3 linked regions of the Homo sapiens genome follow. The protein of the gene in region 3 purifies or fractionates together with the protein of the main gene of each other region. This does not show direct contact. Each region holds a gene or a part of one and is shown on either strand. Other genes may lie near its edges. The genes, in order: ZNF346, KSR2 and ZC3H4.

Region 1 (3,650 bases), on a different chromosome or scaffold from region 3:
TCGGTGATCAATTCAACCTTCAGCTCCTTTCTACCCTCTCAAGATGGGGGGCTGTAACTTCCAAGCCTCTGAGCACATGGTTGGTTCCTATGGCAACCAGCCAACCAGAATGTGGTAATCTAGGGACTTCTCAAAAATCACCCTATTAACATGTACCAAGGTGTGGCTGAAAGGGGCTTGTTATATGGCCGGGTGCGGTGGCTCACGCCTGTAATCCCAGCACTTTGGGAGGCCGAGGAGGGCAGATTACGAGGTCAGGAAATCGAGATCAGCCTGGCTAACATGGTGAAACCCCGTCTCTACTAAAAATACAAAAAATTAGCCAGGTGTGGTGGTGGGCGCCTATAGTCCCAGCTACTTGGGAGGCTGGGGCAGGAGAATGGCATGAACCTGGGAGGCGGAGCTTGCAGTGAGCCGAGATCGCACCACTGCACTCCAGCCTGGGCAACAGAGCGAGACTCCATCTCATAAAAAAAAAAAAAAAAAAAAAAAAAAAAGAAAGGGGCTTGTTATAAATAACAAAAGTCTGTTTTTCACCTTTCTTGCTCTGGAGCAGTTCCAGAGGTGTTTCAGGAAGCAAGGACAAAAGGCCAAATATTTTAACAGAAGATACTCTTACTGCTTTAGTCACTGAGGAAAGTACAAGGGTTATAGAAGCTGTGAGCCAGGAACTATGGAGGGAAATATATATATATATATATATATATAAAACGTCACAAGTGCTTAAGAGAGAAATTTATAATTTTAAACATCTACATCAGAAAAGAAGGATCTCAAATCACTCAAATCAGCAACATAAGATCTTACCTTAGAAACTAGAAAAGATCAAGAAAATGACAAATTCTTAGCTAGACTAACCAAGAAAATAATCAGGGACCTCACATCTGTAATCCCAGTGCTTTGGGAAAGCAGAGGCGGACAGATCACTTTAGAGTTCGAGGAGTTCAAGACCAGCCTGGCCAACACAGTGAAACCCCGTCTCTACTAAAAATACAAAAAAGTTAGCCGGGCATGGTGACACATGCCTGTAATCCCAGCTACTCGGGAGGCTGGGGCAGGAGAATTGCTTGAACCTGGGAGGCGAAGGCTGCAGTGATCATTACTGCACTCCAGCCTGGCAAGACCCCGTCTCAAAAAAAAAAAAAAAAAAAAAAAAAAAAAAAAGTGACACAAGGAGAAACAAAATATTCTGTGTACACTTAAAACAAGTAAAGAAAATGAATAATCAAATACCTTTCCACAAAGAAAAGCCGAAGCCAGCTGGGTGCCATGGCGCATGCTTGCCTATAATCCTAACCCTTTGGGAGGCTGAGGCAGGAGGATCACTAGAGGCCAGGAGTTTCAGACCAGCCTGGGCAACAGAGCAAGACCCTCTATTTAAAAAAACACAAAAATTAGCTGGGCATGGTGGTATGCCCTTGCAGTCCTAGCTTTGAGTTTGAAGGAGTCTGAGGCTGCAGTGAGCTATGATTGTGCCACTGCACTCTAGCCTGGGCAACAGAGACCCTGTCTCTAAATAAATAAATAGAGAATTTAAAAAAAAAAAAAGGAAAGGAAGAAAGAAAAGCTTAGGCCCAGGTAGCTTCACTGGTGATAACTTTTTTTTTTTTTTTTTTTTGAGACAAAGTCTCAACTGTGTTGCCTAGACTGGAGTGCAGTGGCACAATCTCGGCTCACTGCAACCTTAGCCTCCTGGGTTCAAGCGATTCTCGTGCCTCAGCCACCTGAGTAGCTGGGATTACAGATGTGAGCCACCACACCTGGCTAATGTTTGTATTTTTACAAAAACACAAATTTTACAAAAATTTACAGGGTTTCTCCACGTTGCCCAGGCAGGTCAGAAAATAACTTTTATCGGCTGGGCGTGATGGCTCACCCCTGTAATCCCAGCACTTTGGGAGGCTGAGGCGGATCACCTGAGGTCAGGAGTTTGAGACCAGCCTGACCAACATGGTGAAACTCCGTCTCTACGAAAAATACAAAAATTAGCTGGGTGTGCTGGCAGGCGCCTGTAATCCCAGCTACCTGAGAGGCTGAGGCACGAGAATCGCTTGAACCCGGGAGGCAAAGGTTGCAGTGAGCCGAGATCACACCACTGCACTCCAGTCTGGGCGGAAGAGTGAGTCTCTGTCTGAAAAAAAAGAAGATAACTTTTATCTAAAGAATCCAAGTTTTTTTAAATGATCAGGGCCCAGAGAGATATTAAAATGAGATAGCAATCACTTCCTATTCTCCCTTTTTGAGCTAAGATTCATCTATCAAAACTGCTTGCTATTGCCACAAGTGGGTAAGGATTAACCTAATAATGCCCTACCTGACGCTATATCCTACATCCTACAGCTTAATGTACAGCCAATCACTAACCAATGTTATTTCTGTAAATCAATGAGAATTCTTGATAAACAACTTTGTATGAGTCCCACTCCCTGTCCACATTTTTTTGCCTTTAAAAATCAAGTAAACTCTTCAAATCATATTTTGTGTGTTAGCCTCTTCCTTGCAGGTCAACACTTCTATAAAATACTGTAAAAAGAAATATTACCAACTGAGTGTGGTGGCTCACACCTGTAATCCCAACACTTCGGGAGGCCAAGGCTGGTGGATCACCTGAGGTCAGGAGTTCAAGACCAGTCTGGCCAACATGGTGAAACTCTGTCTCTACTAAAAATACAAAAAAATTAGCTGGGTGTGGTAGCACCCTCCTGTAATCCCAGCTACTCAGGAGGCTGAGGCGGGAGAATCACTTAAATCTGGGACAGGGAGGCTGCAGTGAGCTGAGATCGTGCCACCACACTCTAGCCTGGGCGATAGAGTGGGATTCTGTCTCAAAAAAAAAAAAAAAAAAAAAAAAATTACCAATCCATCCTTCACAAACTCCTTCAGAAACAAGATGAGGAAGGGGCTGGGCATGGTAGCTCACGCGTGTAATGCCAGCACTTTGGGAGGCTGAAGGGGGCAGATCACTTGAGGTCAGGAGTTTGAGACCAGCCTGGCCAACGTGGTGAAACCCCATCTCTACTAAAAATACAAAAATTAGCCAGATGTGGTGGTGAACACCTGTAATCCCAGCTACTCGGGACGCTGAGGCAGGAGAATCGCTTGACCTCCTCCAGGAGAACCAGGGAGACGAAGGTTGCAGTGAGCTGAGATCATGCCACTGCACTCCAGCCTGGGTGACAGGGTGAGACTGCATCTCAAAAAAAAAAATAATAATAATAATAAGGAAGATCTACAAGAGAAAATTTCTCAAATCTTGGGTTAAGATAAAGAGTTCTTAGATATGACACTAAAGCACAATACATAGGATAAAAAATGATAAATTTAATCTCATCAAAACTTAAAACTTTTGTGCTTCAAAAGGCACTGTTTAGAAAATGAAAAAACAAGTCACAGTCAGGGGGAAATACCTGGAAATCATATCTATAATAAAAGACTTGTACCCAGAATACACAGATAACTCTTACAACTCAGTAGAAGACAAACAGCCCAATTACAAAATAGGCAAATGATGTGAATAGATATTTCACCAAAGATCTACAAATGGGTAGTCAGCCCCTGAAAAGTTGCTCAGTATTATCAGTCTTTAGGAAACCACAATGAGATATCACTACATGCCCACTAGAATGCCTATAATCAAAAAAGACAAGTGT
Region 2 (3,650 bases), on a different chromosome or scaffold from region 3:
AAGAACTAGCCAAGCTGGTTTTTTTTTTTTAAGTGGTGGAAAAGAAAAACTAAGATTTGTTTTTAATCATTAGACTTTCAAATTTAAGAAGGCGCGATGCAAATAGCATGTTGGCATAAACAAGTGCTGCCCGCTCAATGGAGGGAGGGAGCCTTTCTTCTGAGCTAATTTAAGCTAAATACATGGCAGCTATTTTTCATCTCTACAATTGTGCAACTTTCTCCTCAGTTTACAATACAGGGGAGATATTATCGGGCAGAAGTTGGATGGGGGATAAGTGAAGACGAGAAGGAAAAGAAGAGGCAGTGGACAAGAAGGTACTCTCAGCCACCGAGCTGGTGATTAGAGGTATTTCAAGAGCTCAGGAGTAGAGCTGGTGGTCCACTAGGACCTCAAGATCTTATCTGGGTGGAAACTTGATTTTGAGCCTTCCATTCAGGGAAGAAACCAAAGAGCAATTGGAGTCAGGCTCCTTTTCCTGCCCTTTATATGCAGCACCCCCTGACTTCCCAGAAGCCCAGACTGAACAGCAGAAATTTTACAAACCTCCTCAAGAAAGAAAAGCCCTTGCAGCTCTCCTGCACACCACCACGCACACTGTTATTCCTTAAGGCCCCCATATGCCGTGACTTCCAGCCCAGCTGTTACTAGACTGGGCATAGCATTCAGGCCTTGTGGTGAAGCCGTCCCAGAAGATAAATGATTTTTCTCCAAGCAGGCAGATTACCGAGTAGGATCATACACAGAGTCTTAGAGACAGAATCTTTCTTTCTGCATTTTCCAAGTTCCCTAACTGAGAAGAAACATCTGCAGAGCGCTGATAGACTGTCCACCAACTACAGCCCAAATGGCTTGGCTTCTGGAAGTTTCTGAGGCCTGAGTTCTAAACCTACCTCTGCCTCTTAGAAGGGACCTGACTTAGGGGAGTTTATTATAGCTTCCCTCTCTGGGCCTCAGATCCTGCTTCTGTGAAAGGAGAAGAGTGAGATAAGGGAGGGTCACTCATATCCATCTTAAGTGGTAACTCGAATGCCCTGAAGCTACATCTGTGATCAGTGGGAAGGCATGCTGTGATGGATTAGTGATGTCTGCCAAGAGTACAGCAGGGGACACTGGTGGTAGATCCATTACATATTTGTACTCCTTGGACCAGATCTTTATCCTTCTAGATCTTAGAGGTCCTTCTAGATCACCATCCCAATGACTTGGTTGAAGATGAAAACTCAGGTGAAAACTTAACCCTTCTGAGGGTGTTACATCTTATATACTTTTCACATTGGCCTCCAAGCCATGGTATGTTGGAGAAGCCACCAACACACAGCAGATTTGACCCCTCCATTGGAAGACACCATCAGCCAGATGTGGTGTTCTTGTTCATGGAACCACTGTCCACATGGATGGAATCGGGCTCTAAGCTACCTTTCTCATCTCCTAGCAGTGTCTATGAATGCTAGTGGTCAGCTCTTTTCTGTGGGCCAGTACATTGACATTGCCTCCTTCAGTACCAGGTAAGGTATCAAGTCTCATTCACAGAGGTTGACCTTGTTGGAGATTCAGAAACAAGCCTGGGAAAGCTTGGGAAGAACAGCCTCCTATCAGGCATTTAGAGATTCAACCACACAATAGTGTCTTAAAAGTTCTGATAAGTCCTGCAATCAAGAAATTAGTTTCATTTTACCTAAGCATTTCCAATGCATGCTTGTCCCAGGACCCTTTCAATAATGCAAATCCGGCGAGTTTTCCATGGAATGAAAGGTCTATGGGACATGCTTGGGAAACAAGGTCTTATTTAGATCAGGCACATTCTAGACAGAGTCCATCTCCTCCAGCTCAGTCCTCAGTGGAAGGAGGACAGCCATTCTCAACCCCATGAGATGAATCCTTCATATTCTTGGTGTTAGGAAATGGGAGCTGCATGATCCCAATGAGTGGGAAGGAAGGGCCCTTTCCCACCCCTGAGAGGGAAGAGCACTCACTGATGTACGCCTCTCAGGAACACGGGACCACAGTGCAACATCCAGCAGGAGAGACGGAGGGGATAGGAAGCCTGGAGCAGGGATACTGGAGGGACCCAGGAGGGACTCTGCCAACCCAGATGTACATTTCCTGGAAATCCGGGCTGCTGCTGGCAGCCTGTCAGTTTGAGAACATAAGTTCAAGCTTCCGTGCAAACTCCCAGTATGGTCCCTGCCAGCCCCTGCACCCTCCCTTCCACAACTTCCTGCTTTTCCTCTCTCTCTTTCCTGGTTCCAAGTTGCCAATAAGTCTCAGAGGCTGGGATTGTAACATCCCCATGAGCAGCTGGACATGAACCCCTTGACCTGGAGGTGGGTTCCTGGGAATGGATGAGCCCAAAGACTCGTTTTTAAAATGCTGGGTCTGCAATTTGGAGGCTGGTTTCTGTCCCTGTACCACAGTTGCCCCATTGGAACGAGAATAAGACTACTGATCTCCCCAAACCATCATAGGAATTCCAGCCTGGCACGTAGTAAGTGCTCTGTGAATGAGGGCTGTTCAGGGTGGATTGTTACTCTGCCTCCTAGACATCCTGGGCCACCTGACTCAATGGGTCGCTTCATACGTCACAGATATTAAACCTGGCAAACTGGCTCAGCACAATGGCTTAGCCCTGTAATCCCAGTGCTTTGGGAGGCTGAAGCAGGGGGATTGCTTGAGACCAGGAGTTCAAGACCAGCGCGGGCAACATAGCAAGACCCTGTCTGTACAACAAATAAAAAATTAGCCAGGCATGATGGTGTGCACCTGTAGTACCAGCAACTTGAGAGGCTAAGGTGGGAGGATTGCTTGTGGCCAGGAGTTCGAGGCTGCAGTGAGCTATGATCACGCTGTACTCCAGCCTGGGTGACAGAGCAAGACTCTAACTCTAAACCACAACAACAAACCTAACAAACAAACTCATTGGGGTTGATATGGCACCCACAACATGGTCTGGCAAAGGGGAATCCCAATACCATCCAGCCCTGCCAATGGTGCCCTTCTAACTCCCTGTGCCAGGGTCTTACTCTTACCCAGCAAACCTCTCTGTCTGCATTCTGTAAACATTTCTTGAGCACTTACTATGTGCCAGGCACTACTAAGACAAGTCCAGGAGGTCACTGGGACCGCAGATTTTCCATCAACCTCCTGCCCCACTACTGGTTTCAAAACTAAACTGGTAACAGAATGGGTATGGATTGCAGGGCCTCGAGAAGGGAGTCTGGGATTTGGGTTAATATCATAGTCAGGCACTGACCAGAGAGGACAGAGGTTCACTGCGGCTCCACATTCCAGGACCCAGACTGACATTTGCTGCCTGTCACTCCCCTTGGAGTTCAAAGTGATTCCCTTGCAGGTGTGTGCAGGTGAGGGTGAGGTGGTACGGGAGGAGGTGAGGCTGGGAGCCAGGGAGAGTGGCCACATGAGTCTGCCTAGGAACTTCCCCACATCACAGGCAAAGCCAAAAAAGGAAACAGCAAAATGTAGCTCATCAAAATCCACTCCTTTGTCAATGAACAAGAGTATAGATAAAATCAGATGCTGTGTCACCAACTGCTTTGGATAGGGTCATGAGGCACATTCAGGGGTCAAGTGACAGTCCGCTACAGACAAGCCACTTACACACAGGCTGTTCCCATACAGCCACAGAACTG
Region 3 (3,650 bases):
TGACTCCGCAGTTGACTCCATGGTGGAGTCAACCATTCAGGGCCTGAGCTCCTTTCTCCTCTGCACTGGACCCAGCCTCTGGATTCCAGGGAATGCATTGGTTTGTGTTCCTTGCTTAGTCGTTCACTCAATAAATCTCTGTGCCTTGTTTGTGCCAGGCACTGGGGGTGCTGAGGAGGCAGGGTTAGGTCCTTGGGCGGATGCTGATGACACATGGGGAGTGTGAGTGTGTGTGTGTATGTGTGTGTGCGCACACACACGTGGGGATCAGGCCGTGAAGAATAAGTGTGGGAGCCCAGGACTCTAGCTGGGCTCTATTCAGGAGGCAGACATTCAAGAGGCTTTGTGAGGAGGTGACACTGGCGGCCCCAGGATGTGCGGCAGTGGGGACTGAAGAGGAGGAGGAGGAGGGAGATGCAGGGTGGCAGCTGCAGCGCAAGCCATGGCCCCACACACAGTTGAGGAAGGGCCCTTGGGCCAGGAGGAAGTGAGCCCGTGGCAGTGTTGAAAGCAGCTGGCGCAAGGCTCTGGGCCCTCCCAGCAAGGCTCATCTCAGGTGGTGGTGCCCACGCTCAAAGGGCAGAATGCGGGTTCTGCCTCCACGGGTCCCCCTGTGCTGCTGGTTCACACGCTGACCACCCCTGGAATATCAGGGTTCAGAAGGACAGAGGGGTTCCACCGCGTCGTTTTCCACACCTCCTCCATGAAGCCACATTCTTATTGGACCCTGGGGTTCCAGGGTCCAGATACCATTGCTAATGGCTAGGAGAAGGGAAAACTGCGAATGCACAACCCCCACCAGGGGGTCCTGTTTCTGTCCGCCTTGCTGTTCCTGGGCAGAGGGGCAGGACTAGTTTATCTTGATGACCCTGTGTTAGGACCAACTAAGGGATCTGTGCTGGGGTCCCCAAGATGACCCAGAGCAACTTGCTGGGGGACTCACGGCCAAGATGTTAACTGCGGTGAAGGGACACAGGCAAACTCAGCCCTGGGAATGAGTACATGAGGGCGCCTGGAGGAAGCAGGCGCATCCTCTTCCTGTGGACTCGCAGGGGCCACGCTGCCCTCCTCCAGTTGTGACAGCACGAGTGGCATGCTGTCTGCGAGGAGACTTGCTCAGCGCCCAGGGTTTTCACTAGGCTGCTCACCTAGGCAGCCTCTGCCCAGCATGGACCAAAATTCCAGATTTGGGGGGCAAAGCAGGCATTCAGCACAAACTGCATTGGTTGCAGAAACAGTTTAGATGCAGTGAGCCCCTCTTACTGGACAGTGAATGCTGGGAGCCCTCCCAAAATGCAGCTTCCCAGACACCAGCCGAGGCCTAGCCTTGCAAGCAGGCCTTCCAAGGAGAGCAGCCAGGCCTCCTGTGTCACTTTTCTGCACGCTATCCTAACTGATGAGACATTCTAGTCCAGTTGAGATTTTGACATTTCTCATTCACTCACTGGGCGTCTGCCCTGTATCAGGTCTCGTGGGGGCCCTGGGGATATAGCAGGGAAGAAACAGTCCTGCCCTCTTGGAGTTGATGGGGAGGTTGAGCCAGGATGAACATGGGAATGACTGAATAATCCGACAAGGCATAGGCAGTGTTGGCAGAGAACTCCTGGTGACCCAGTAGTGAATACAGGAGACTGGACAGACACTATGAATTGACATCTAATGAGGGACCTCAACAGTTGAGTGACGTTGAGCCACATGGGAATAACAGGAAAAATAAAAACCTGGGGGAAGCTGGTCCTGGCCCTGTAGGGGAGAGCTTGGCTGCTCATTGCACTGAAACGAGGCTGGGTGGTTGGGGTGGAGGAGTCGGGATCGTGGGAGGAAATGAAGCTGCCAGGAAGCTACCCAGTCGTCCCCAGATACCTAGACACCCAGACACCCACCCCTGCTCTTAGGCCCTAAGGGTCATGGTCAGGAGTTGAGATCAGAGGCCCTTAAAATCCAAACATGACAGGGGAATATGATTCAGCCATAAAAAACAGAGTGACATACTGATAGATGTAGCAGTGTTGTAGATAGATGCACTTTGCTAAGTGAAAGCGCCCATCGCACACAGCGCATGAGTCTGTTCGCAGGAGCTGTCCAGCAGGGGCAGGTCCGCAGAGACGGAAAGCAGAGTGGCTGCCGGGGGCTGGGGGTAGAGGGTGGGGAGCGATTGCTTAGTGTGTACAGGGTCTCTTTTGGGGGTGATGAAAATGTGCTGGAACTATATAGAGGTGGCGGTTACATAACATTGTTAATGTGCCAAATGCCACTGCATCGTTCACTTTGTTTTGTTTTTGTTTTTTGAGATGGAGTCTGGCTCTGTCGCTCAGGCTGGAGTGCAGTAGTGTGATCTCGGCTCACTGGAACCTCCGCCTCCCAGGTTCAAGCGATTCTTCTGCCTCAGCCTCCTGAGTAGCTGGGATTACAGGTGCCCACCACCATGCCCGGCTATTTTTTTTGTATTTTTAGTAGAGATGGGGTTTCACCATGTTGGCCAGGCTGGCCTCAAACTCCTGACCTCAGGTGATCTGCCCACCTCAGCCTGCCAAAGTGCTGGGATTACAAGCATGAGCCACCACGTCTGGCATTATTTATTTATTTTTGAGACAGAGTCTCCTCTGTTGTCCATGCTGGGGTGCAGTGGTGCGATCTTGGCTCACTGCAGCTTCTGCCTCCCATGTTCAAGTGATTCTCCTGCTTCAGCCTCCCGAGTAGCTGAGACTACAGGCGTGCACTACCATGCCTGGCTAATTTTTGTATTTTTAGTAGAGATGGGGTTTTGCCATGTTGGCCAGACTGGTCTTGAACTCCTGGCCTCAAGTGATCCACCCACCTCGGCCTCCCAAAGTGCTGGGATTACAGATGTGAGTCCCTGCGCCCAGCTGAATCGTTCACTTTAAATGGTTAAACAGTATGCTTTGTTATGTGTATTTTGCCATAGAGCAGGAATGGCCCCCCCTCTACCAGCTGGTCCCCGAGAGTGGAGCAGAGAGGTGGCTGATGATGATTTTTGTTACAGAGCCATTGTGGTCTTTATGCCTTTAGATCTCAAGGTCCTTGTATTATGGACTTTTCCTCATAAACTTCAGCTCTCAGACCTGGAGAGGTCCGTTTCCATCCTGACCCCGTCCACACCTTCTTTTGTTCTTTCACACCCGCAGATGTTGGCCGATGATGCAGAAGCAGGTGCCGAGGATGAGAAGGAGGTGGAGGAACTGAAGAAGCAGGGCATCAACCCCCTGCCCAAACCGCCCCCTGGTGTGGGCCTCCTGCCCACCCCTCCTCGGCCCCCTGGCCCGCAGGCTCCAACCTCTCCCAACGGCAGGCCCATGCAGGGTGGCCCCCCGCCCCCGCCCCCTCCCCCTCCCCCACCGCCCGGGCCCCCTCAGATGCCCATGCCGGTGCATGAGCCACTGTCCCCGCAGCAGCTGCAGCAGCAGGACATGTACAACAAGAAGATCCCCTCCTTGTTTGAGATCGTGGTGCGGCCCACGGGACAGCTGGCTGAGAAGCTGGGTGTGAGGTGAGTGCCCTGGACCCCCGTGACAGGCAGTGGGCGCTGTCCTGGGCCCAGCCAGGCTCCTCTTGTTAGGGCAAGCCTGGCTGTGGGAGAGTCCTGCCTCTCTCCCCAGCTGTGGGAGTCCTGGTCTGGGGCCCATGACCTT

Evidence for each region.
Region 1: the proteins of ZC3H4 (region 3) and ZNF346 purify together in Homo sapiens (co-immunoprecipitation; one large-scale study listed by IntAct). This does not show direct contact.
Region 2: the proteins of ZC3H4 (region 3) and KSR2 purify together in Homo sapiens (co-immunoprecipitation; one large-scale study listed by IntAct). This does not show direct contact.

The regions. Positions count from the first base shown.
Region 1 is NC_000005.10:177,025,555-177,029,204, reverse strand, and holds part of ZNF346 (zinc finger protein 346), read right to left. Parts: intron 1-3,650.
Region 2 is NC_000012.12:117,458,387-117,462,036, forward strand, and holds part of KSR2 (kinase suppressor of Ras 2), read right to left. Parts: 3' UTR 1-3,650. UniProt on the Homo sapiens protein: Location-regulated scaffold connecting MEK to RAF. Has very low protein kinase activity and can phosphorylate MAP2K1 at several Ser and Thr residues with very low efficiency (in vitro).
Region 3 is NC_000019.10:47,072,210-47,075,859, reverse strand, and holds part of ZC3H4 (zinc finger CCCH domain-containing protein 4), read left to right. Parts: intron 1-3,146; coding exon 3,147-3,508; intron 3,509-3,650. UniProt on the Homo sapiens protein: RNA-binding protein that suppresses transcription of long non-coding RNAs (lncRNAs). LncRNAs are defined as transcripts more than 200 nucleotides that are not translated into protein.